Linked DNA regions of Homo sapiens. The protein of the gene in region 1 purifies or fractionates together with the protein of each later gene. This does not show direct contact. Each region holds a gene or a part of one and is shown in the gene's direction. Other genes may lie near its edges.

Region 1 (3,500 bases):
TCCTATTGCCCCCTTCCCCAGATTGATTTGAAGTGGGAGTGGTTGAAAGACGGAAGAGTTGTGTGTAGTATGGGGGGGGGTTCACTACACACCAGCTTATCCCTGAAATCCCCATAATGGCACACCCCCATCTGCAAACAATGAAAGGAAAAGGGTCAAGAAACAGTATTAGGCTGAAAAGTCAGGGTCTTTATTGTGTGTATGCGGGTGAATCGGTTTGTAGCCTCTCACTTGGTGGAGGGGGACTCAGTTGATTGCTATGGTTGTTCTTCTCTATTAAGTCCCAGGGTTGGTGATGGTATTGGAATGAATCGGTTTGTGCTTTTATGTACCTTAGAGCTTGGGCTGTCAGATCAGACCTGGATTCTAATTCTAGCTCTGTCACTTAGTGGCTACTAGGACTTGGAGAGGTCAGAACCTCTCTGAGCCTCGTATGTTAATCTTGAACATTTAAATATCAACACCTACCTTGAAGGCCGCTGGGAGGAAAAAAATGAGATAATTTATGCAAATCACTTAGCACAGTGCCTGGCACAGAATGAACACAGAATGAGTGCTTGTTGTTATGAAATACTTTTATTATTAAATGGTGTTAGTTACTAGTTTATTATTATTGCTGTGGGTCTGCTCCAAACCAGCGGTAACCGTAGGAGTTTGTTAAGGGGTAGTGGATAGTTTGTGTTAATTTGGAGATTGGGGTTAGGGGGCTGGGGATTAGCTTCAACTGCTTTGTGCATTTTATTTGATGAAGGCTTTAGGCAGATTTGTATTGCTTTCTTTAGGATTATTTTTTTTTCTCTTGGACAAGAAATAGCTAAGACTATTCCGTGGGCCTTGAAAATAAAATAATTGTATTATGGTTCTTGATTTTGAAGCAAGACCCCAGCCCCCTCCCGTGTTGATCTCTGGAGCCTTTCGTTTTGCAGAGGGACTCCACAGTTTCTCTAGTGGGGACAGGGCTAGGCTGAGGGGTGTGTAAAAGGTTGGGGTGGGTGGGTGGAGAGAGACTAGTGCTGGGGGCTGGGGGGGCGGGTAGTTAAAGGAAGAGACCGGAAGGGAGGAGGAGGGAGCCTGCTGGTGGGGAGGGAGGGAGGGGAGGAGGAGGTGGAGGAGGAGGAGGAGGAGGAGGGAGGGGGTTGGGGAGAGCCTGCTACAGTTCTTTGTTTGACTCCGGGACTCAGGGACGGGGAGGAGGAGGGAGGGAATAGAAGGGGGAGGAAGCCCCCCCCCCCACACACACACAAACACACACACCCCAGCTGTTGGACAGATGAATTACAGCCTCCGGCTTGGGGCCAGGGCTGGTGAGGGATTAAAGCTCTGGGGCTGGCCCTTTAAATGGCTGTTAGCCCCTCCCCCACTCTGTTGTCCAGACACCCCTCACACACCCTCTGACCCCCTAGGCTTCCCCCTCACTCCTCCTCTTGGTCTGTCCTAAAGTCTGCCCACTCTGCTCTCGACTAGCCCTTTCCTAGTCCCTCCCCCCAGCACAACCGCAGAACACAGATGCCACAGACTATAGATACACACTCTCTGCTCCCAGGTTATGAGCCTCCCTGTCCTGGAGAGTTCTAGCCTGAAGCTCCCTTCCCGAGCAGAAGGGCCTTGCCTGCCTGACCTCTACCACCTACAGCTGACCACTACCCTGGCTTAGGAAGGAGGCCTTGGTGGGTCACAAATAGCACCTCCCTGGGGGCAGTGTCATCAGCAGCCACAGAAGCTTGCGGAACATTGCATCATGGAGACTGGGGGCTAGAGGCCTGAGTCTCTGAGGCAAGGGGAAGGATGGGGGCCGGAAGGCTAGGGAATATAGAGATTAGATTGGGACCCCAAGTGTTTGGGTCCATAAGGGCAGAGAACTATGATTAAGGGAGCAGAAAACATAGGTCCCTGAGGAGCGAGTCTGAGGTGAGGGCCAACTTAGCTCTGACCCCTGATGGACACCTGATTCTTGGCCTTGGACTTATGCTAAAAGACCTAGCTTCTTGTCTATGAGGGTTGGGAAGGGAGTGGGCCTGTATCACCTTCTTAGGCCACATAAGAGGAAGGAGGTGATGGGGAAACAGGATATTGCCTTGGGGTTGGCAGGGAGGGGAGGCTTGCAGTGGAGGCTACTTCCAGGCTTAGGCCCAGAGTCAGAGTTCTTGCAGGGGAGGATGGCCCCTCCCTGTTGGGCCCGTTCATCTAGTCTGGCTACCTGTGCTGCTAGCCAAGACCTGCCTGCACCCGCCTGGGGGAAGAAGAGGGGGCAGAGTCCAGAGGGTGGGGTTGACTGTCTGGTGTCTTGATAAGGTTGGAGAGGACACAGAGCTGAAGGAAGAGGGTCTGCATGCCCTGGTGCTAGGACTCAGGCTGGCTTGTGTACAGATGTCAGGGCAGCTGGGGCGACTCAGGCCAGGGAGTCTCAGCAGGAGCGTCCTGTCAGAAGAGGGATCACGGGTTTGGGGTCTACTGTAGACTTACTCAGATGCCATATCATGGCCCCTTACCAACTGATCGAGCCTGCTTCCCAAAGGGGAAGGTTGGATGACCACTTTGGGGATGGCTTTTTCTGGTTGCCATGGAAACAAGATTCTCCCATCATATCTGACCACCAGAGCCAGGTTTCTCCTTAATGAGGGGGGCAGGGAGCCCAGGAAAATTCTCCATCCTGGAAGACCCCCACCTCTAACTGACTTTTTTCTTTTAGGTTCCCCCCAGGGCAACATGCCAGCCCCGTAGCACTGCCCACCCCACCCACTGTGGTCTGTTGTACCCCACTGCTGGGGTGGTGGTTCCAATGAGACAGGGCACACCAAACTCCATCTGGTAAGTCCTGTCTGAGTGACCCTCTCTCCTCAGCAGTCTAACTCTGCACCACATGGTTGGAGATGCTCGGTATGATCTGGATCATGCCCACTCTTCAGAATGGTCCAGTCCAATTCTAAGCACCCCACCATGTGGTGCTTGAGTGGTTCAGCCCTCCTGGTTTATGGACCTCCCTTCTATCTCCTATAAATGGTTCAGCCCTGTACTTCACCAGCCTCTCCACTACTACCAAAAAATCTTTTCCCCACTATCTCCCTAGTGCTACAACTCAGTTGCTTATTGAAATGAAGAGGGAGTTTGCAAGCTGAAAAGTGGATATGAGCTACCCTGGAGGAATTTTTTCTTGGTAGGGAAACAGCTTTGTCCCTATAGGAGTTGTTGAACACCCTGGCTTTTGGAGGGTGTTCAGAATTTATTTGGGGAGATAGTGGAGATCACTGCCAGCCACAGCAGTCTTGGCATTTCACCTTTCCTTCCAGATCTCTTTCAGTCCCATTCTCTCCCCACTGCACTATAGCATTTGCCCCCATACCTAAGTCTTACTCTTCTGCTTCCCTCTCTCCTTCTGTCAGTTCTCTGCCTGAGGCCCTGCTTTATTTCCCATTCCTTTGTAGGAGAAAAGGGAAGATAATCCCTAAGCCAGGGGCTTAAGTTCTCTCTGTGTTGTTCTTCCTCATTACATATGGGGTTTC
Region 2 (3,500 bases), on another chromosome or scaffold:
AACAAATCACAGAATGTCTGATATAGCTATGGGATTGGGTTTTCATGATTTCTGACTCAAATGAGAGTATCTTTGTGTAGGAGCGGCTAATCTATTCCAGCCACACCCCTTTAAAAGTAGCACAAAGTCTTGTGGTTAGTTGCTCCACTATCTTGACACTGGAACAGGATTATTTGACATTCTTTGAGGAATACAAAGAGGAGATATATACAAGAGGAAACTGATGAAAGGGTCATAAATCCATGGGTGCTTAGTTCTTCAAGGTCGTGAGAATTTGAAATGGGTGATAAGACTTGTCATTTCTGATGTTTTCCCTTATATAGGTTTTATTTTCTGTAGCCTTTCCTATTATAGATGCATCTTCACTCATCTTTTCCCTCTGTGTAAGAAATTTGTCTAATGGAAGTTAAACTGTATACCAGATTTCATTGAGATTTGATAAATTCTAAGACTTAGGCTTTTTAAAATTAAGAATACTACATCTCTTCTGCATTTTGTTTCAAGAATTAGCCAGGTGTTGAATTTGGGGTCTGTCTCATTAAATAATGAAGACAGAATTTATTAGTCTGTCTCTTTTGGGCTGTTGATTCCGTTGAGATTCTGCTGCACGCACTGGACATCTGCTTAGAAAACATAGTTCCACAGAATTTTGCACTTAATTTGTGATTTCCAGCCTTCCCCTAATTGAGTCAAGCTCATCTTATGGACTTCTACATTAATTCAGTTTTAAGGAAGAGCAGGCTGACCTGTGAAATGCTAAACACTTCTGTCTTAAATCAGTTTTAAATACTTTCAACAAAGACTTCTTTGTGGCTGTTCTTTGTATTGGGGGTATACATGCAGTGGTGAAGGATCAAGACATCTTCTCTGACTTGTGCCAATGTCGAAAAGAAAAAGAACTGGCCAGGCGTGGTGGCCTGCACCTGTAGTCCCAGCTACTTGAGAGGCAGAGGCAGGAGGATCACTTGAGCCTGGGAAGTTGAGGCTGCAATGAGACATAGTAAACATAGTAGTGTCATTGCACTCCAGCCTGGGTGACAGAGCAAGTCTCCGTTCCCCCCCCCCCCCGCCCCACCCACAAAAAAAAAAGGAAAAAAGAACTGTGTACAATAATAGAGAATCATTGGGTGGTAGAATCAGAGGAGGTAGTGGGGACCTACTTAGGTGTAAGGGAAGGCCCCTTAGAGGATGCCTGGATGGGGGGTCAGGGGAGGGAGAATAAGGTGTTTCATATAGAGAGAACTGGGAAGGGCCTGAGGCTGTGAAGAGCACAGTGTGTTTAAGGAACTGAAACTGTGGACAAGAGGGGAGAATGGCAGGGACTGCATAAGGCAGGCCCTTGTACTCAGTGATAAGGAATTTGGATTTTAGTGGAAATATACTAAAAGTTTTTATTCGGGGGTGTAGCATCATCTGAATTATATTTTAAAAGATCATGCTGACTGCTGTATGAGCAAAAAGAATACTGGGGGCAAGTGGAAGCAGATACGCTAGTGGATATGCAACAGTCCAGGCAGCAGACAGCAATGGCTTAGATTAGCGAGGTGGCAGTAGGATAGAGAGCAGTGGACATCTGTGAGAATTTTTTAGGTGGTAGAAATACGAAGGCATAAATAGGGTTGGATATGGAACATAAGGGAGGGGAAAGAACTCAAGGATGTTGCTGGAAGTTGCCACTATTGGATGGTTGGAAGAGGAGTGGATTTTGGGGGGGATTGTTTCGTGGGAGAGGTAAGGGTGAATTCAGCAGTTCCCCTTTTGTCTATCTTAGTTCTCAGAAGCCTGTAAGATTGTCAAGTAGGCCTGTTAGAGAGATCTATACATCTTGAGGAATTCAGAGATACTTGGCTTAGAGATGTCAGTTTGAAGATTGTCACTATGTTAGTGATACTTAAGGTAATGAAATAATTGAAGAAAAGATTATAAAGAAGAGAGAAAGATTGACTAGAACTGGAATCCTGAGGAATGCTGAACATTTCTAAGTTGGGTAAACTGGAAGGCTTCTTGGAAGGACGCTAGGAAGCACACAATCAGAGTGGTACAAATTGGGAATGTGTAATATATAGTATTATCATGTCGTGGATGCCAAATAATGCAAGTATTTCAAGGGGGTGGGTAGTCAGCTGTATTGAATTTCACTGAGAGGCTGAGAACATGTGGGCAGGAATGTGGCCATTGGATTTGGCAACCTGGAAGTTATTAGTAACTTCAGTGAGCCAGTTTCATGGACTAGTGTAGATGGATGCCAGATTTGAGTGATTTGAGGGATAAATGATGGCTGAGGAACTAGAGACAGGGTGTATAGATAGCTTTTAAAGAAGTTTACCTATGAAAGGGAATAGATACAGGGTAGAAGCTAGAGATGTATGAGGATATAAAGGAAATCTTTTTGTTTGTTTCTTTTTGAGTGTGAGAAATTCTGCAGAATGATTTTAGTTGTTAGGATTGCTAAGATAAGGGAGATGAGAAGTCCTTGAGAAAGCAGGAGTGGTCAGGATCCTGACTGCACAGAGTCCTTTGATAGGAAGGGGATACTTCTTCAGTTTTTTTTTTTTGTTTTTTTTTTTTTTTTTGTGATGGATTCTCGCTCTGTCGCCCAGGCTGGAGTGCAATGGCCTGGTCTTGGCTCACTGCAACCTCCGCCTCCCGGGTTGAAGCGATTCTCCTGCCTCAGCCATCAGAGTTGCTGGGATTACAGGTGCCTACCACCACGCCTGGCTGATTTTTGTCTTCTTAGTAGAGACAGGGTTTCACCATGTTGGCCAGGCTGGTCTCGAACTGCTGATCTCGTGATCTGCCTGCCTTGGCCTCCCAAAGTGCTGGGATTACAGGCATGAGCCACCGTGCCCGGCCACTTCCTCAGTTTTAACAGTGGGGAAGAAAGAACAACATGGTTACAGACGCAAGTAGGAATATAGATTTAGTGGGTGGAATATAGATTTAGTGGGAGGATGTTCTGGCCTAATGGCTTTTATTTGTTTTCTACAAACTGAGGCAGGATTAACAGTGTAGTAGTAACATAAAATCTTAATATGAAAGTAAGAAAAAAATACATTCACATTAGCTTCAAAGAGGCCTAACATACTTGGGAATAAACTTAAGAAAAGAGTCACCAAGATTTTTGTATTTAAAACTACAAAACAGGGCTGGGCACAGTGACTTATGCCTGTAATCCTAGCACTTTGTGAGGTTGAGGCGGGCAGATCACTTGAGCCCGGGAGTTTGAGACCAGTCTGGGCAACATAGGGAGACCCCTGCCTGTAAAAAAAAAAGATAAAATAAATTAGCTGGGTATAGTGGTGTGCACCTGTGGTCCCAGCTACTTGGGAGGCTGAGGCAGGAGGATGGTTTAAGCCTGGGAGGCAGAGGTCAGGGAGGCAGAGGTCAGAGAGACCCGAGATTGCGCCAATGGACTCCAGCCTGGGCAACAGAGCCAGACCCTGTCTCAAAAAAAAAAAAAGAAAAGGAAAAGAAACAAATAATTGGGCTTTATTAAATAT
Region 3 (3,500 bases), on another chromosome or scaffold:
GGACATGTACCCTAGAACTTAAAGTATAATTTAAAAAAAAAAGGCAAATGTAGTTTACATTAAGTCCATAACTAAAATGTTTACAAAACTAAGGGATAAATCCTTTTTTTAAATCGTTTTTAGGTACGAATGTGAAGAATCTTTTACGACCCTAAACGTAGACATTAGAAATCACCAAAATCTTCTTGATTCTTTGGAACAGTATGTCAAAGGAGATTTACTAGAAGGTGCAAATGCATATCATTGTGAAAAATGCAATAAAAAGGTACGGGCTGTCCAGTTTTGTTTAATTTTGATTACATTTAATGGATTTAGAAGAAATTGGTTTTTTTGGTTCATCCTCACAAGTCACCCTATTTTTATTTTCTCCTACTTTGGTATAGTGGTAGCAGAGAAGTAGTCAATATGATAACTAATAGAAGGTTTGGCAAGGAAGGAAAAAAAGTAGTGCCAAAGGGGCTAGGTAAATAAGATAAAAATAGGTAAATAAGAGTGAATAATTTTAAAAGTCATAACGTGATAGCACATTCTCTTATATAAGTTACACAGACACTTTCCATCTCTACCGAGAAACAAATTGCCATTGAACCCCTCAAAGATACAGAGCTGATAGAGGAAAACATTTCTCCTGTCATGTCCAGGATTACTTGTCAAGACCAAAACATTTGCTGAAACCATTAATTACTTTATTGAACCACATAAGATTTCTTTTAGACTAGTCAAGTGGCCCATAAGATTTCTTTTATCACCTATGTTATAAAACCATTTATTTTGGAAACTTATTAGCAGTTCTTTGAGAGAGATGATTCACACGCATTATAGTAATGAATAAGGTGTATCTTTGGGAGCTCCCAAACCCTTTCACCCTCAAGTCACTTGTGTTGTTTTGGCCTTATGCACCACTTAGAGAAGTCCTGAAGTTTAAAGATTGAGATTGTGGGCTGTAAAGCCATACTGCCTGCCACCTGCAGCTCCTGAGACCTGAGGCAAGTTACTTGACCTCTCTGTGATTACTAGTTTTCATCTTTTAAGGTTCAGTAGTACACACTTGAGAAGGTTGTAAGGATTCGGTATGTTTTTACTTGTGCGGCACTTAGTATATATTACCTGGCATCTGAATTACCCAACAAATATTAGCTACTCTTATTGTTATTGTAGTTCTTTGGTTTGTGCATAGGAAACCACCTTCGTGGGAACAACAGTAAACATCAAACAGGTAATAATGGCTAGATAACAATGACAGAAACCAGTCAACAATTTACCATTTGCATATTATTAATTTCAGCATTTAAATCAGCTGATAGGATTATCTTGATTATGCTCATTGTCATGTATTTGTTTATACTTAAAAATTCAGATAAGTCTTAATATCATTTAAAAGTTTGCTTGGGGTTTTTTTTTTTTTCCTGTGGATTTTAATAGAACATCTGGTAACTTTGTCTTGTTTATTTTAGGTTGATACCGTAAAGCGCTTGCTGATTAAAAAATTACCTCCTGTTCTTGCTATACAACTAAAGCGATTTGACTATGACTGGGAAAGAGAATGTGCAATCAAGTTCAATGATTATTTTGAATTTCCTCGAGAGCTGGACATGGAACCTTACACAGTTGCAGGTGTCGCAAAGCTGGAAGGGGATAATGTAAACCCAGAGAGTCAGTTGATACAACAGAGTGAGCAGTCTGAAAGTGAGACAGCAGGAAGCACAAAATACAGACTTGTGGGTGTGCTCGTACACAGTGGTCAAGCGAGTGGGGGGCATTATTATTCTTACATCATCCAAAGGAATGGTGGAGATGGTGAGAGAAATCGCTGGTATAAATTTGATGATGGTGATGTAACAGAATGTAAAATGGATGATGACGAAGAAATGAAAAACCAGTGTTTTGGTGGAGAGTACATGGGAGAAGTGTTTGATCACATGATGAAGCGTATGTCATACAGGCGCCAGAAAAGGTGGTGGAATGCTTATATACTTTTTTATGAACGAATGGACACAATAGACCAAGATGATGAGTTGATAAGATATATATCAGAGCTTGCTATCACCACCAGACCTCATCAGATTATTATGCCATCAGCCATTGAGAGAAGTGTACGGAAACAGAACGTACAATTCATGCATAACCGAATGCAGTACAGTATGGAGTATTTTCAGTTTATGAAAAAACTGCTTACATGTAATGGCGTTTACTTAAACCCTCCTCCCGGTGAGTATCAAGAGAGTTTAGCTTCTTAGTAATAAAGAATAATTTATAGTAGGCGTCAACATGTTTAAGTTCATAAAATTAATGTTTTCACTTTAAATGAGTCTAATTTGCTGGGTGTGGTGGTTCACGCCTGTAATCCCAGCACTTTGGGAGGCCGAGGTAGGTGGATCACCTGAGGTCAAGAGTTCAATACCAGCCTGACCAACATGGTGAAACCCCATCTCTACTAAAAATATAAAAATTAGCCAGGCATGGTGGCATGCACCTGTAGTCCCAGCTACTCCCTGTAGTCCCAGCTACTCCGGAGGCTGAGGCAGGAGAATCGCTTGAACCTGGGAGGTGGAGGTTGCAGTGACCCAAATTGATGGCCACTGCACTCCAGCCTGGGTGACAGTGAGTCTCCATCTCAAAAAAATAAAATAAAAAAATAAATGGGTCTAAATTAAAGTAGCCTGAGAAGGGTTCTTAACAAATTTAGGACTTCTCAAAATTAATGGAAACACAGACTTGTTTGAAAATGGGGTTGGAAAATAAAAATGTGTTTTTATATCTGCATTTTATTTATAGGGCAAGATCACCTGTTGCCTGAAGCAGAAGAAATCACTATGATCAGTATTCAACTTGCTGCTAGGTTCCTCTTTACTACAGGATTTCACACAAAGAAAGTAGTCCGTGGCTCTGCCAGTGATTGGTACATTGCTTTGGATTTTCATTCCTATTATACTAATGTTTGGTTTGCTTCTTTAATAGATTGCTTTATGTTTTTCTAAACCAAGAGAATTTTGTTTGAAGTTTGGAATATAGAATAAAAACTCTGGGTCACAATAGAGAAATCATATTAAAATAGTTACTTAGTCTAAACATGGCCTTTTGTTATTCAGAAGCTGACTTCTGCTTCTATTACCTTGTATCATATCTTTGACATCCCTGCACCAAAGACTACAAGCTGAGACTGGGGGACAGTGACTCACACCTGTAATGCCAGCACTTTGGGAAGCCAGGGTGGGAGGATTGCTTGAGCTCGGGAGTTCAGGACCAGCCTAGGCAACATAGTGAGACCCCCATCTCTTCAAAGAAGATTTTAAAAATTACCCAAGTATGGTGGCGCACACCTGTAATCCCAGCTACTCGGAAGGCTGAGGTGGGAGGATCGCTGGAGCCTGGGAGGTTGAAGCTGCAGTGAGCCATGACTGTGCCACTGCACTCCAGCCTGGGCAGCAGAGCAAGACCCTGTCTCAAACAAAACCAAAGATTACAAGATGAGACTGAAAAGTGTAAGCTACTTATGAAAT
Region 4 (3,500 bases), on another chromosome or scaffold:
GTTCCCAGGGGGATTATGGCTGCCTCTTCTGCGTCATACAGGCTGCCAGGGAAGTAGGAGAAAGCCGGCAGTGACAGACCCCCACCCAGCTGCCACACAGCCAGCAAGGCCAGTTTCACTCCCGCCATGCCCCACCATGGTGAGCAGGGCTGAGATCTTGCCCCAGACTACAGGCCTCCCTACTGAGAAAGCAAGCAGGCCTCTCAGGCCTCGCCCCTCCCTGCCTGCCTGCACCTTCGGCTGTGGGTTCTTCATTTGTATCTGCACTTCCCATTTGTCCCCCACCGGATTCTGCTCAGGAAAATTTGTGCTCAGTTGAAATTATTACGAAGTTCAGCTAGAAGCTTCCTTCATCCTGTGGCCCCTCCCCAGTTCTGCTGGCTGCCTTTTTTTCCCGAAGGACCCCTGTGAGATAAAGCCAGGGATGGCTTCCCTGGGCTCAAGCTGGGGACTGGAAGTGTCTACAGGGCTCTTCCTGCTGCTGCTTCTACTTTTATAGTTTGCTCAGCTCTCTAAATCCATTTCAGCTCTAGGTAAGATTAAATCCGTCTCCTGTGATCTGGATTTTTCAGGTTCCCCGGTGGGGATGTATGTTCAGAGGCAGACTTTTCCCCCTCTCACACTTTGGGAACTCACAGTTTTTTGGCTGTCTTATGGAGTTTGCAGCAGCAAGCCACTTCTTTCAAAGGGTCTGTGAATTCTTTTGGTTTTCCTGGTATGTTCCTGTGGTGGTTCTTGGAGCAAAAGTTCACAATGTGTGTCTCCACACACTGTTCTGTCTGTCCAAGTGGGTGCTGCACATTAATCCTGTCTTCTATTGCCATTTTCCTGCAAGTTTTCATTGTATTTATCCTTTTGAATTTGTGTAGTTTAAAATTATGAGTTAAACAGTGGCAAGTCCTCTTTGCCACTTTTCCAACCAACTAGTTACCCTATCTGGAGGCAGCCAGTGTTACCAAAATTGTGTGGCCTTTGAGATAGACTTTCATAAACACACAAATTGCAACTCCTCCCGCCCCACCCCTTTTTACACTAGCGGTAGCCTGCTTTATACATGTTCTGTTTCCTGCCTTGCCTGTCTTGGAGATTATTACACATTGGCTTATAAAAGAGCTTCCTTGTTCCTTTTTTTTCTGAATACCTGCATGTATTCCACTTTACCTATGTAACATTATGACTTAACTGGATCACCACTAGTGGTCATTTATGTTTGCAGATTTTTGCTAGCAGGGAATCACTGGATGAAAGGATTAATGTGTCTGTGATTTTTGTTAGATGGTTTCAGATTGCCGTCTGTAGCTTGTATTCACTTAGCCTTCTACCAACAGTGTGTGCAGGTATCTGTTTCCCTGCATACCTGGTCCATTATACCTTTTCTCTTACAGTTAAAGTGTTATGTCATTGAAGTATGTGTGAGTATATGTAAATATTCTTGGTAAAGGTTGTGTGTAGTTGTTAATTTTCACTGCTGAATCATATTCCATCATCTGTATGTGTGTGAAAAAAAGTTTATATCTATTCTACTCTTTTAGTTTTTTCTCTTTCTTTCTTTTTTTGGAGACAGGATCTTGCTCTGTCACCCAGGCTGTAGTACAGTGGCATAATCATGGCTCACTGCAACCTCTGCTCCTGGGCTCAGGCGATTCTCCCACCTCAGCCTCCTGAGTAGCTGGGACTGCAGGCATGTGCCAGCATGCTTGGCTAATTTTTGTATTTTTTGTAGAGCTGCCATCTCTATGTTATGTTTCCCAGGCTGGTCTCGAACTCCTGGGCTCCATCAGCTCCATCTGGAGCTCCATTGAACTCCTGGGCTTCATTCCCAAAGTGCTGGGATTATAGGCATGAGCCACCATACCCAGCCTCTATTCTACTCTTGATGGACATTTGGGTATTATCAGTTTTTAGCTAATAGGAAAAGTGCCACTATCAACATCTTACACATGTCTTTTGATGACCAAATGTATGCCTAACAGTTGTATATCTAGGAGTAGAATTGCTGAGTGGTTAGGTGTGAATCCATCAGCTTGGAAGATGAACATTTCCAAAGTGCTTTTGCCAGCTCAGCTTTCACCATCAATGCGTATGAGTGTCTTTGCATCCCAGCAGAATTTCATTACACTGACTTCAGTGTGTGTGTAGTGATATCTTGTAATATTAATTTGTATTTCCTTTCAGTGAATGATTTTGAGCATCTTTTAAAATGTTTATTGGCCATTTTGGGTAGCTTCTTTTGTGAGGTACTTCTTCAAGTCTTTTGCCCATTTTTCTATGGGGATTCTGTCTTTTTCTTGATGATTTATAAATTGTTTATATTTTTGATATGAGTCCTTTGTCAGGTATATGCTTTGCAAATATCTCCTCCCATTCCGAGGAAATCTTTCAAGGCTGGTGGTATGATTGAAAATAACTGGTAGTGGGGCTCCTTGGCTGGAGTAGTCATGGAGGGTCTCTAGAGGATGACTTGCCATCTGATATGTCTGAAGGACAGAGCTGAGCCAGCCCCTTGAAGTGCTTGACAATGACTGGCTCAGGCAGAGGGAACAGCATGAACAAAGGCCTCAGGGCAGGACAAAGCTTAGCATGTTTGGGTACAGAAAGAAGGCCAAAGTGGGAGGGGAGAAAGAGGTGGCAAGAAGAAATTAAGATAATCAGAATCTCTTTTCATTGCTCTGTGGGAGAAAAAGGCTTTAGATTTGTCATTCGTCCAATGCTGTGTATGACAGTTGCTTCTAGTGACCCTGCAGTCTTTGAGTCTCTTTTTGCTTTGGGAGGCTGAAACAATGTTTCTTTCTGTCCTTTGTCCTGCAGGTGTGGTGGACACAGGCCTATTCATCAACATGGCTGAGAGAGTCTACTTTGGGATGCAGGATGGCTCAGTGAACATGAGGGAGAAGCCTTTCTGTTGACCCTGCAAGGAGCAGAGTGTGTTCACCTTGAGTCTCCAGCCCACAGCCAAGGTGGACGTACCTCTCCAGGAGCCTTTGCCTTAATGTATCTCTGCCTGGACAACTTGTGGTGGGGGGTGGGGGGAAGAGTGGGAGGGGGAGTTAAATCCAGTCTTATGAAGTATTGTTATTAAATGTCTTTTTAAAAAGAGAAATATAAACATATATTTTTACTATTAAAATATTCAGTTTTTTAAATGAAGTAGAACTTGAGTTCATGTTTTATATGAAATATTTACCAAAAAAAAAAAATGAGGTAAACTGTATTTAAAACCTTTGACTTGAGTCTGCTGGTAAAGCTTCTGAATATTGAGTTTGCTGAGAAATAAAAATCAAAACTTCTTTAAGCTGGTAAAGTGAGGGGCCCACCAGCAGTGATCTCCTGATGCCTTACTGGAAACTTTGTTTACTTGTCTGCTACCCTCTGATTTGTTTTTAGTTAGTTTTTATTGTGAGCACACATAGTACCTAGTTACATCTTAAGATCAGGTTTATAAAACTGTGGAGTGGAGCGGTATGGTATGGAATGACTTGGAATGTAAGCTGTCAGGGAGA
Region 5 (4,171 bases), about 28 Mb from region 1:
GTAATCCTATTTGGCTGATTTCCCTCCATATTGTAAGTTTTGAACTTTTCTGCCAGTCTTTCTCCTATTTGTGTTAACTCATGGAATTCCAGTTGTCTAGCCTTGAAATTGTAGGCTCTTCTAACTTGAGCAAAATCTGACAGATCAGCAAAATAAGGAGAAAAATATTTCTTCTTTCTTTCTGGCTGCATTAAATGAGATACAGCTCAGCACCAAAAAGCTATCTTTGTAAATGTTCTTAGTAAACTCCCTGGTCTTTGGAGTTATTTCAGCCTTTGAGAGTAATTCTTTAAAAGTCTAATTCTGACTGGTTGAATCTCTCTATATGATTTATTGCCCTAGTAATATTTGAAACAGTATCATATTTTAAAATATATAAATATTTATGAATTTTTGTTCAGCCCAAAGAGGATTACTGATGCTTTCTTCTTTTTCCATATGATGAGGAAATGTTTAGCTTATATATTTATTGCATTTCTGTTTTAAATAAAAAATTGAGAGTTTGTGTTTCATTAAACTGAAAAAAAAGGTTCTGTAAAATAAATGATTAAATGGAGGAAAAGGAGAAGACTGAGGCCAGCAACTCCATGATACAGCCAAAAATGAGCCAGTAAAAGATTAAGCAAGATTAACTGTAAATTTTTTTTTTTTTTTTTTTTAAAGAGAAAAGGTCTCACTGTGTTTCCCAGGCTGGAGGGTAGTGGTGTGATCATAGTTCACTAGAGCCCTGAACTCCTGGGCTCAAGTGATCCTCTTGCCTTAGCCTCCCATTGCTGGGATTATAGGCATGAGCCACTGTGTCAGGCTTAATTGGGTTTTGATGGGTACCTGCCTATCTCTGTAATTTGGCTCTAGTCATATAGGACCTGCTTCATTAAAGATCTGAAAATCTATCCAGCCATTGTAAAATGAAACAAAATGTTTTGAAAATTTAAATTAGCCTTTTATTTTAGTTCAGACATATAGAAAAGTTGCAAGCATAGTACAGAAAGTTCCTATATACCCCACTTAGTGCCCTCCTTTTTAAAATTTTTTTAAACCTAGCTTATTTCCTTTAAGATTTCTGAGAATTCCAGGAATGCTCACAGATCTGTCCTTGTAGTCTCCTGCCACTTCTTGCTATGGAGTGCTGTACCAAGGTCTCTGCTAGTTTCTAGTTGGCTTGACATAATGACTTTCCTAAACTTCTTCTGCTCTGAATCTCAAGCATGGAAAGCGGTCACATCTTTTGTTTCACGAATTAACAGTCAACACCTGGCCCTACTTTTAACAAAACTTAGTAAAGCCTTGAGCATAGTGAAAGACAAATATTTAAATTATATATTAGCAGGAGGCTGAGGTGGGAGGATCATATGAGGCCAGCCTGGGCAGCATAGCATGACCCCCCCCTCGAGAAGACAACAAAAAATTATCTGGGTGTGGTGGTGTGCTCCTGCAGTCCTAGCTATTCCAGAGGCCGAGGCGAGAGGATCGCTTGATTCCAGGAGTTCAAGGCTGTAGTTAGCGATAATCGTGTCACTGAATCCTAGCCTGGGCAACAGAATAAGACCCCATGTCTAACAAAATAATAATAAAACAATCAAAAGTTTAAAATTAGTTATTAAATGTCAGTGTGCCCAGAGTCCTTTGACCACAGATGATCCTGATGGCCTTCTCTCGCCTTGTCCCTGTGCCTCCTTCTACCATTTTTCTTCCTGAGATTCAAAAGTAAGTAGCGGACAGGGTTCCCATTTACCACTAAATACTTCAGTGGGTGTTTCCTAAAAGGACATTTATAGTACCATCATCAAAATCAGTAAATTAACCCTGATACTATTATCTAATCTGTAGACTTTATTGAATTATATCAGTTGTGCCTCAAGTGTCTTTATGTTTTTTTCTCAAAAGAGAAAAAGTTCTGGTCCAGGATTTGATCTAAGATCATGCATTGTATTGAGCTTTCCTTTCTTTTAAGTCTCATTTAATCTGGAGATGTTAATCTGTCTTTGTCATATCTTTGACACTATTGAAGAGGACTGGCCTATTATTTTGCAGAGTATCTGATTTTGGGTCATTTCATGTGTTCTCATGATTAGATTCAGGTTATGCATTTTTGGCATGAATTCCATAGAAGGGCTGTTACGGTTCTCAGTTCACGGTATTAGAAGGCACTTGATAGTGATTAGTTCCATTCCTGATGATGTTAACTCTGATCATTTGGATAAAGTGGCGTCTGCCAGGTTTCCCTACTGTGCAGTTACAATTTGCTTTTTGTAATTAATAAAGTGTGTGTGTGTGTGTGTGTGGAGGGGGGGTGTTTTTGCTTCTGAACGCATAATATTTGAGATTTTTTTCTAATTAAAAAGTAATTATTCAAAGAGTTCAGAGAACTGATACTGATCACATTCTTTGACCCCACATGCAAATACATTATAAACTAGTAATAAAACGGTAACTAGAAAAATGTTCATATCTTTTGGAATTAAAAAAGTGTTTAACTCGTGGATCAAAGCAGAAATTCTGTAACCATTGTCACAGCAGGTTCTAACAAGCAAGTTTAAGGAGGAGAGAATTTCAGTCCTAGAGAATTTCAGTCTTATTCAAATGCTTTCCTAGAAAGAGGAAACAGTTCCTAACTAATTTCATGAGGCTGGCATAATCTTGATAACAAGTCTGATAGGTAAAGTATGAAAGGAAAATTGCAGGTCACTCAATTATCACTCAAATATCTACATGAAAAATTCTAAACAAAATTTTAGCAAACAAAATCCAACAATTTGTAAAAGTGATAATACACCACGACCAAGGTGGTTCAAGTCAGGAATTCAACGTTGATTTTGGCGTTAAAAAATCAATCATCAGGCCCAGTGAGGTGGCTCACTCCTGTAATCCCAGACTTTCTGGAGGCTGAAGGAGGAAAGATCCTTCAGGCCAGAAGTTTGAGTCTGCACTGAGCTGTGACTGCATCACCGCACTCTAGCCTGGGTGCCAGTTTGAGACCCTGTCTCCAAGAAAAAAAAATTAATCAGTGTAATTCACCACAGATTAAGAGTTCAAAAGAGAAAAATCACATGATCATCTGAATAGAGGAAAAAGCTTTTGATAAAGTTCAACATCCATTCATAATAAGGACTCTCAGCAACTTAGAAGTATAAAAACACTTTTGGAAATCAACAAAGGGAATTTACAGCATGAACAAACAGCAAGCCAGCATGGTGGCTCACACCTGTAATCTCAGCACTTCCAGAGGCCAAGGCAGGAGAATCACTTGAGCCCAGGGGTTAGAGACAAGCCTTGGCAACATAGCAAGATCCTGGCTCTACAAAAAATAAAATAAAATGAAATAAAATTTAAAAATTAGCTGGGTTTGGTGGTGTGTGCCTGTAGTCCCAGCTACTGGGAGGCTGAGGTGAGAGGATCACTGGAGCCCAGGAGGTGAAGGCTGCAGTGGGCTAAAAACAACCAGAACAACCCCCCAACCCCCTCCCCGCAAAACACTATAAAGAATAGCAACACAAGGTTCAATGTAAACTTTGATATGGTGTTTTACCTCTGAGGAGAGGCTTATTGTTAATATTCTTTAGCCGTGTAAGGGGTTCACAGATGTTCATACTTTTGTTCTTTATACCTTATATGTATTCTATAAATATTGTTTCTACTCAATAGTTAATAAAAACATAATTTAAAAGTTCTGTGAATGTTTTTACTCTGCTCACTTTTGAGGGGCCTTTTGGGATATGCATTTTCTATTCCAAGTTGATCTGATATGTCATGCCTGCCACACACATTCCCATGGGAACAACTTCTTAATGTCTTTTGTTTCTGCCTTGGAAGCCATCCTGGTGCTCTGGGAAAATCCCTGCACTAGCATTTTCTTTTTCTTTTCTTTTCTTTTTTTTCTTTTTCTTTTTTTGAGATAGAATCCCTTGCTCTGTCTTTCAGGATGGAGTGCAGCCGTGTGATCTTGGCTCACTGCAACCTCTGCCTCCATCCAAGCGATTCTCATGCCTCAGCGCCCCCACACCCTCCCCAGTCCACCACAGTAGTTGGGACTACCAAGGCGCGCACGACTATGCCCTCTCACCATATTGCCCTGGCTGGTCTCCAACTCCTGAGCTCAGGCAATCCACCCACTTCGGCCTCCCAAAGTGCTGGGATTATAGACGTGAGCCACCGCACCCGGCCTGCGCTA
Region 6 (3,500 bases), on another chromosome or scaffold:
CTACGGGAAATGGGTCAAGGCCAGCATTAATGGTTAGCATTGATCTTCATCAGGCAGGAAGAGTGGACTCTCAGGCTTCTATAACTCAGGATTCAGACTCCATAAAAAAGCCTGAAGAAATCAAACAATGTAATGATGCACCTGTTTCTGTTCTTCAGGAAGATATTGTTGGAAGTCTTAAATCTACACCAGAAAACCATCCTGAGACACCTAAAAAAAAGTCTGATCCTGAGCTTTCAAAGAGTGAAATGAAACAAAGTGAAAGTAGATTAGCAGAATCTAAACCAAATGAAAACCGATTGGTGGAGACAAAATCAAGTGAAAATAAGTTAGAAACTAAAGTTGAGACCCAAACAGAAGAACTTAAACAGAATGAGAGCAGAACAACTGAATGCAAACAAAACGAGAGCACCATAGTTGAGCCTAAACAAAATGAAAATAGACTGTCTGACACAAAACCAAATGACAACAAACAAAATAATGGCAGATCAGAAACAACAAAATCAAGGCCTGAAACCCCAAAGCAAAAGGGTGAAAGCCGGCCTGAGACTCCAAAACAAAAGAGTGATGGGCATCCTGAAACCCCAAAACAGAAGGGTGATGGAAGGCCTGAAACTCCAAAGCAAAAAGGTGAGAGCCGCCCTGAAACTCCAAAGCAAAAAAATGAAGGGCGACCTGAAACACCAAAACACAGGCATGACAATAGGAGGGATTCTGGAAAGCCATCTACAGAGAAAAAACCTGAAGTGTCTAAACATAAACAAGATACTAAATCTGACTCACCTCGGTTAAAATCAGAACGAGCTGAAGCCTTAAAGCAGAGACCTGATGGGCGATCTGTTTCTGAGTCACTAAGACGTGACCATGATAATAAACAAAAATCAGATGACAGGGGTGAATCAGAGCGACATCGAGGGGATCAGTCTAGGGTTCGAAGACCAGAAACATTGAGATCCTCTAGTAGAAATGAACATGGCATTAAATCTGATAGTTCAAAAACTGATAAACTAGAACGAAAACACAGGCATGAATCAGGGGACTCAAGGGAAAGACCATCTTCTGGGGAACAAAAATCAAGACCTGACAGTCCTCGTGTTAAACAAGGAGATTCTAATAAATCAAGATCTGATAAACTTGGTTTTAAATCACCAACTAGTAAAGATGACAAAAGGACAGAGGGTAACAAGAGTAAAGTAGACACTAATAAAGCACACCCTGACAATAAGGCAGAATTTCCAAGTTATTTGTTGGGGGGCAGGTCTGGTGCGTTGAAAAATTTTGTCATTCCGAAAATCAAGAGGGATAAAGATGGCAATGTTACTCAGGAGACAAAGAAAATGGAAATGAAAGGAGAGCCGAAAGACAAAGTAGAAAAAATAGGATTAGTTGAAGATCTAAATAAAGGAGCTAAGCCTGTAGTTGTGCTACAAAAACTGTCTTTGGATGATGTTCAGAAACTTATTAAAGATAGAGAGGACAAATCAAGAAGTTCCCTTAAACCTATCAAGAATAAACCATCAAAGTCAAATAAAGGTAAGAATACTTCTACTGATGTCATTTATAATATAATCGATTTTAAGTGTTAAGATTACTAAGTTTTAAAAAGGAAATTTACAAAAATTAGAAAGCTACTACATGAAAATATAACATTTATGTCAAACAACAGGAAATTTTTTTCAGGAGTATAGATAAAAAGTTTCCAGTGAATTTTTTTTTCCCCACAGTTTTTTTCTTCCCACCCACTACTCAAGGTAGTTATGAATGTTACTGCTATTTGGTTACACAGAGATAAGTTATTTTGCTGTTTAGTTATTTCTTATATTTCTGAAATATGCTTAAGTGAATGTTGTATTAAAATAGCTGTCTTTAAAAACTCTCTATTTAAAAATGTCTTACAATACTACATTCTTACAGACCTGTGTCTGAGCCAATTATTGATGAATAATTTGTATAGTTTAGAAAGTTATATAAAAGGTTATTTTTCATTTTGTTGGGGAGATGGTTAGTTAAATATGTTTTATATTTTTAAAACATATCTTTTTGTCCTTGTTTATGCAAAGGTAATAGGGAATGGTACTTACTTTTTAAATTTGGTTAAATTGTAAGTTTGTGGGAGGCGGGGGACTGGTGTTATTTTTGCATGGTTTCTGAATTCTCTGGTTACTTGAGTAAAATTATTTCCAAAGGGAGAAGAATGTCTTAAGTGCCAAAAGATAATGGCCATTTGTGCAGAAGATATACTTCTGTATCCCTTTGTACACAAGTATTTAAAATAACTTTTTTTATTTTTAAATAGAGATGGGGTCTTGCTTTGTTGACCAGGCTGGTTTCGAACTCCTGGCCTCAAGTGATCCTCTCCTCTCAGCCTCCCAAAGTGCTGGGATTACAGGCGTGAGCCACCGTGTCCATACAGTCTAAATATACTGAGGTGTAGTGAAGGCAATAGAACTGAGAGTTTATTTAAGTTTTCCTTCTGTGAAAGAGAATTATTAAGAATTTAGATTTATACTTATATATAACCAAGTATATGAAATCTGGAATTGCATTGGCCAAGAGGGTAACCATTGCCTTTTTTGGCTATTTAAATTTAAGTTAACTAAAATTGGAAGTTCATTTCATTAGTAGTCACATGTGGCTGTTGGCTACCATATTGGACAAAACAGAACATTTGCATCATCACAAAGTTGTATAGCACTGCAGTGTATTAGGAGATACAAAAAGTGTGTGGTTATTGTTTTTCATAACATGCTGTTGTAGCTTGTCTACCAAGAAAGCTCTTTGAAAACATATTATAAAGAACTCTTTATTCAAAGAATGACTTGTGGCTAATCTGTTGTTATTCTTGCTTGGTCTTCGTCAACATTCATTTTTTCACTGTTAATTTATTTCCTTTTGTCTTACAATAATGAAAAAAGATTGCCTTCTGAGTCGCTAATATTTGTGTTCTTTGAGTGAAGCTTTTAAATTTTAAATTATGGCAATTAGACTTACCAAAAGTCAGTTAAGACATCAGCCTTAATTAATAAGTAGGCTTTTTTATTTAACTTGAATGCATCTTTTCAGAGTTACTTGTTAATATAAAAGAGGTTGTAGAATGTGGGGGTTAACACCACAATTGTTTTCTTTTAGGTAAAAATTTTCTTTAAAATTTTTTAGTGAAAGTTTGGGAGTAGCTTATATTTATAAACTAAAGAGTATGGCTATACAATTTTAGAAGAGTCAGGTGAAAGATGGAAAGTGGTACCCTCTTGTTCCTTTGATCTGGACCATCTTTCTCTCCCTCCCCTCTCAGCTTACCCTAGCCTTGCTTTCTAAACTCTGTTCTAACAAAGAGTCTTTTAAAACTCCTTAAAGAACATCCAGAAGTGAATATAGCTTTTAGTTAGTAATTGGTATATTATTTCACCTGGGTTTTTCACATGCAATAATATTGCCTATGAATATGTTTTTAGCACCAAAATGCGTTTCTGATAGTATACTTTTAATGCAGATGTATATAC
Region 7 (3,500 bases), on another chromosome or scaffold:
GAAGAAAAAGTAGAATCAAGTTTTAGCTCCCAAGTTTTTTTGCCTGAGGAACCAAAAGGAAGATGTTTCTATTTACCTGATTGGAAAGACCTCAGGAGTTTGAGTTTGCATATTAAATTCAAGATGGTTTATTAAACATCAAAACAAAGGTGCTGAGTAGGCAGTTGTATATATGAGCCTGGACTTTAGAGGAGAAAACTGGGCTGGAGGTATAAATTTGGGGGTTTACCAGCATACAGACAGAATTTTAAGGTGATGAGAGTATGAGATCTCTTAGAATATTTAGAAAAGAGATTTAAGGGCTGAGGACTGAGTAACTTCCATGTGTAGAGGTGGGCAAGATGAAGAGGAACCAGCAAAGAGATTCAGAAGGAATAGACAGTAAAATAAGTGAACCAAGAGAGTGGTATGCTGAGAGCCAAATAAAGTGTGAAGTACTGTGGTATAGTAGAATGAGTATGAGTTTGGGAGCCTGTCAGGCCTGATTTAGTTACTTAATTACCTGAGAGTTCATACAAGTTTCTTGATATCTCAGAGCCATAAAATAGGAGTAACACATGCACATGTAAAATACCTAGCCTAACATCTATTGCCCCATAGGTAATATTTGCCAGAAACACATTTGTCAAGTAGTTGAATATATTTTTGTGGTTAATAGTAGTCAAGAAAGAAACAGTATATTCTGACAAGTCTAATATATGAGATTCTTTTAATATAAGAACTTGGTAGCTGTACAATGCATTTGAAAGCCATGTGCAACTGAGAACCAAAATTGAATTATCAATGCACTAGATAGACAAGGCAACTGAAGTAACTTGGGTGGAGAGGTGAGAATACTGTGAAACAATCTCTATGTGGGACTTAATGTACGTCCTATACCTCATTAATTGCTGTGTCAAGAAAGACCTTTATAAAGAAAGGTTATAGCAATGTAGTTTTTGTCTTTGTTATGTATTTCCTATTCCTATAGCTAAAAATCTACTGAGACATACCAGTTTTAACATTTATAGAGGAAGAAGGCTGGGTGCAGTGGCGCACACCTGTAATCCCAGCACTTTGGGAGGCCGAGGCAGGAGGATTACTTGAGCCCAGGAGTTCAACAGGCAACAAGATAAAACCCCATCTCTTCAAAATATTTAAAAATTAGCTGAGTGTGGTGGCATGCACCTGTTGTTCCAGCTACTCAGGAGGCTGAGGTGGAAGGATCACTTGAGCCCAGGAGATCGAGACTATAGTGAGCTATGATTACACCTCTGCACTCCAGCCTGGGTGACAGAGCAGTAAATACCCTGTCTAAAAAATAAAATAAAATAGGCCGGGCGCAGTGGCTCACGCCTGTAATCCCAGCACTTTGGGAGGCTGAGATGGGCGGATTACAAGGTCAGGAGATCAAGACCAGCCTGGCCAATATGGTGAAACCCTGTCTCTACTAAAAATATAAAAGAAATAAGCCGAGCGTGGTGGCACACACCTGTTGTTCCAGCTACTCGGGAGGCTGAGGCAGAAGAATAGTTTGGACATGGAAGGCAGAGGTGACAAGTGAGCCAAGATCGCACCGCTGCACTCCAGCCTGGGCAACAGAGCGAGACTCCGTCTCAAAACAAAACAAAACAAAAAACAAACAAACAAATAAAATTGGCTGGGAGCAGTGGCTCATGCCTGTAATCCTAGCACTTTGGGAGGCTGAGGCAGGTGGATCACTTGAGGCCAGGAGTTTGAGGCCACCAGGCCAACATAGTGAAACCCTATCTCTACTAGAAATACAAAAAATCAGCTGGGCGTGGTGGCACACGCCTGTAATGCCAGCTACTTGGGAGCCTGAGGCATGAGAATTGCTTGAACCCAGGAGGCAGAGGTTGCAGTGAGCCGAGATCATGCCACTGCACTCCAGCCTGAGCGACAGAGCAAGACTCTGTCTCAAAAAAAAAAAAAAAAAAAAAATGAAACCATAGAGGCAGAGATTGTGAGAAATTAATTGTGGTTATTGCTTGAGTCTTTTCAGCATGAAAAAATTTTAATTTGTGACTATTTTCTCTATAAAGGCATAGCAAATGAATCTAAAAAGTTATATGGAGCACAGTTCCACCCTGAAGTTGGCCTTACAGAAAATGGAAAAGTAATACTGAAGAATTTCCTTTATGATATAGCTGGATGCAGTGGAACCTTCACCGTGCAGAACAGAGAACTTGAGTGTATTCGAGAGATCAAAGAGAGAGTAGGCACGTCAAAAGTTTTGGTAAGCAAATTATTATCTGGAAGTCTACAAATTTATATCAATAATATTGGAATCCAGGAGTTAGAGTCCTCAACACAGCCCTTAAATGTTCTACAGTTTTAGAGTGCTTTTCCAGTTACCATACATATCTTTGGTATAAATAGCACTTTTAGATAAAGATTTAAGCCAATAGTGTTTATTTTCTTTTTGCTTGTTTTGCTCATTTTGATTTTTCATTTTACCCCGTAGGTTTTACTCAGTGGTGGAGTAGACTCAACAGTTTGTACAGCTTTGCTAAATCGTGCTTTGAACCAAGAACAAGTCATTGCTGTGCACATTGATAATGGCTTTATGAGAAAACGAGAAAGCCAGTCTGTTGAAGAGGCCCTCAAAAAGCTTGGAATTCAGGTCAAAGGTATTGAAGAACCTCAGAAAAGTTAACTTACATGTTAGGACTTGTTTAATCAAATCTAGTCTTATGGTTTAAATGAGCACAATTACAGTTTTCTCAGTATGCTCAAGGTTGAAAATGTTTTTTATTTTTACAATTACCTCTGGTGTAAGAGAGGTCTCAGTATAAATTTTTAAACTATTGATTCTGCTAATTTAATACATAGATTGATAAATTAACATTTTCTAGCTACTGTTCAGTTCTCTTCTAGTCATTCACTTTTAAAATTATCTTTTCCTGGCCAGGCGCGGTGGCTCACGCCTATAATCCCAGCACTTAGGGAGATCAAGGTGGGTGGATCACCTGAGGTCAGGAGTTTTGAGATCAGCCTGGCCAACATGATGAAACCCCATCTCTACTAAAAATACAAAAAATTAGCCAGTCTTGGTGGTGGGCGCCTGTGATCCCAGCTACTCGAGAGGCTGAGGCAGGAGAATCACTTGAACCTGGGAGGTGGAGGCTGCAGTAAGCAGAGATCATGCCACTGCACTCCAGCCTGGGCAACAAGAGCGAAACTCCATCTCAAAAAAAAAAAAAAAAGAAATTATCTTTTCCCACTCTATTTAATGATATTTATGTACGAGGCTACCCAAGCCCTCCTCAGGTATGGGTATACAGATTATTTTGCAAACAGAAAAGCTTATTGTGGGAGAGGTAAAGATTCTATACTTTTTTTTTAAAGGGCCACTAGTAAACTTCTTAGTCCTTAATAACATTTACTTTTGTAGATACCTTTTATACTTTTTAAAAACAAGGTGCAATTGATAGTTATAATGAAATGAGGTCAGTAGTTTAATGATAAAAGTTATTGTACATATTATGGAATTAATTGGA

The links.
Region 2: the proteins of KDM6B (region 1) and REPS1 purify together in Homo sapiens (affinity purification with mass spectrometry, with the first as the bait; one large-scale study listed by BioGRID). This does not show direct contact.
Region 3: the proteins of KDM6B (region 1) and USP9X purify together in Homo sapiens (affinity purification with mass spectrometry, with the first as the bait; one large-scale study listed by BioGRID). This does not show direct contact.
Region 4: the proteins of KDM6B (region 1) and RPIA purify together in Homo sapiens (affinity purification with mass spectrometry, with the first as the bait; one large-scale study listed by BioGRID). This does not show direct contact.
Region 5: the proteins of KDM6B (region 1) and SLFN13 purify together in Homo sapiens (affinity purification with mass spectrometry, with the first as the bait; one large-scale study listed by BioGRID). This does not show direct contact.
Region 6: the proteins of KDM6B (region 1) and NIPBL purify together in Homo sapiens (affinity purification with mass spectrometry, with the first as the bait; one large-scale study listed by BioGRID). This does not show direct contact.
Region 7: the proteins of KDM6B (region 1) and GMPS purify together in Homo sapiens (affinity purification with mass spectrometry, with the first as the bait; one large-scale study listed by BioGRID). This does not show direct contact.

The regions. Positions count from the first base shown.
Region 1 is NC_000017.11:7,837,217-7,840,716, forward strand, and holds part of KDM6B (lysine-specific demethylase 6B), read left to right. Parts: intron 1-2,689; 5' UTR 2,690-2,808; intron 2,809-3,500. UniProt on the Homo sapiens protein: Histone demethylase that specifically demethylates 'Lys-27' of histone H3, thereby playing a central role in histone code. Demethylates trimethylated and dimethylated H3 'Lys-27'.
Region 2 is NC_000006.12:138,978,254-138,981,753, reverse strand, and holds part of REPS1 (ralBP1-associated Eps domain-containing protein 1), read left to right. Parts: intron 1-3,500. UniProt on the Homo sapiens protein: May coordinate the cellular actions of activated EGF receptors and Ral-GTPases.
Region 3 is NC_000023.11:41,214,445-41,217,944, forward strand, and holds part of USP9X (ubiquitin carboxyl-terminal hydrolase 9X), read left to right. Parts: intron 1-123; coding exon 124-265; intron 266-1,454; coding exon 1,455-2,208; intron 2,209-2,775; coding exon 2,776-2,899; intron 2,900-3,500.
Region 4 is NC_000002.12:88,747,173-88,750,672, forward strand, and holds part of RPIA (ribose-5-phosphate isomerase), read left to right. Parts: intron 1-2,808; coding exon 2,809-2,906; 3' UTR 2,907-3,500. UniProt on the Homo sapiens protein: Catalyzes the reversible conversion of ribose-5-phosphate to ribulose 5-phosphate and participates in the first step of the non-oxidative branch of the pentose phosphate pathway.
Region 5 is NC_000017.11:35,434,596-35,438,766, reverse strand, and holds the end of SLFN13 (schlafen family member 13), read left to right. Parts: 3' UTR 1-3,671; downstream 3,672-4,171. UniProt on the Homo sapiens protein: Endoribonuclease that cleaves tRNAs and rRNAs. Cleaves tRNAs 11 nucleotides from the 3'-terminus at the acceptor stem. Does not act on tRNA(Sec).
Region 6 is NC_000005.10:36,984,769-36,988,268, forward strand, and holds part of NIPBL (nipped-B-like protein), read left to right. Parts: coding exon 1-1,533; intron 1,534-3,500. UniProt on the Homo sapiens protein: Plays an important role in the loading of the cohesin complex on to DNA. Forms a heterodimeric complex (also known as cohesin loading complex) with MAU2/SCC4 which mediates the loading of the cohesin complex onto chromatin.
Region 7 is NC_000003.12:155,908,650-155,912,149, forward strand, and holds part of GMPS (GMP synthase [glutamine-hydrolyzing]), read left to right. Parts: intron 1-2,042; coding exon 2,043-2,236; intron 2,237-2,464; coding exon 2,465-2,630; intron 2,631-3,500. UniProt on the Homo sapiens protein: Catalyzes the conversion of xanthine monophosphate (XMP) to GMP in the presence of glutamine and ATP through an adenyl-XMP intermediate.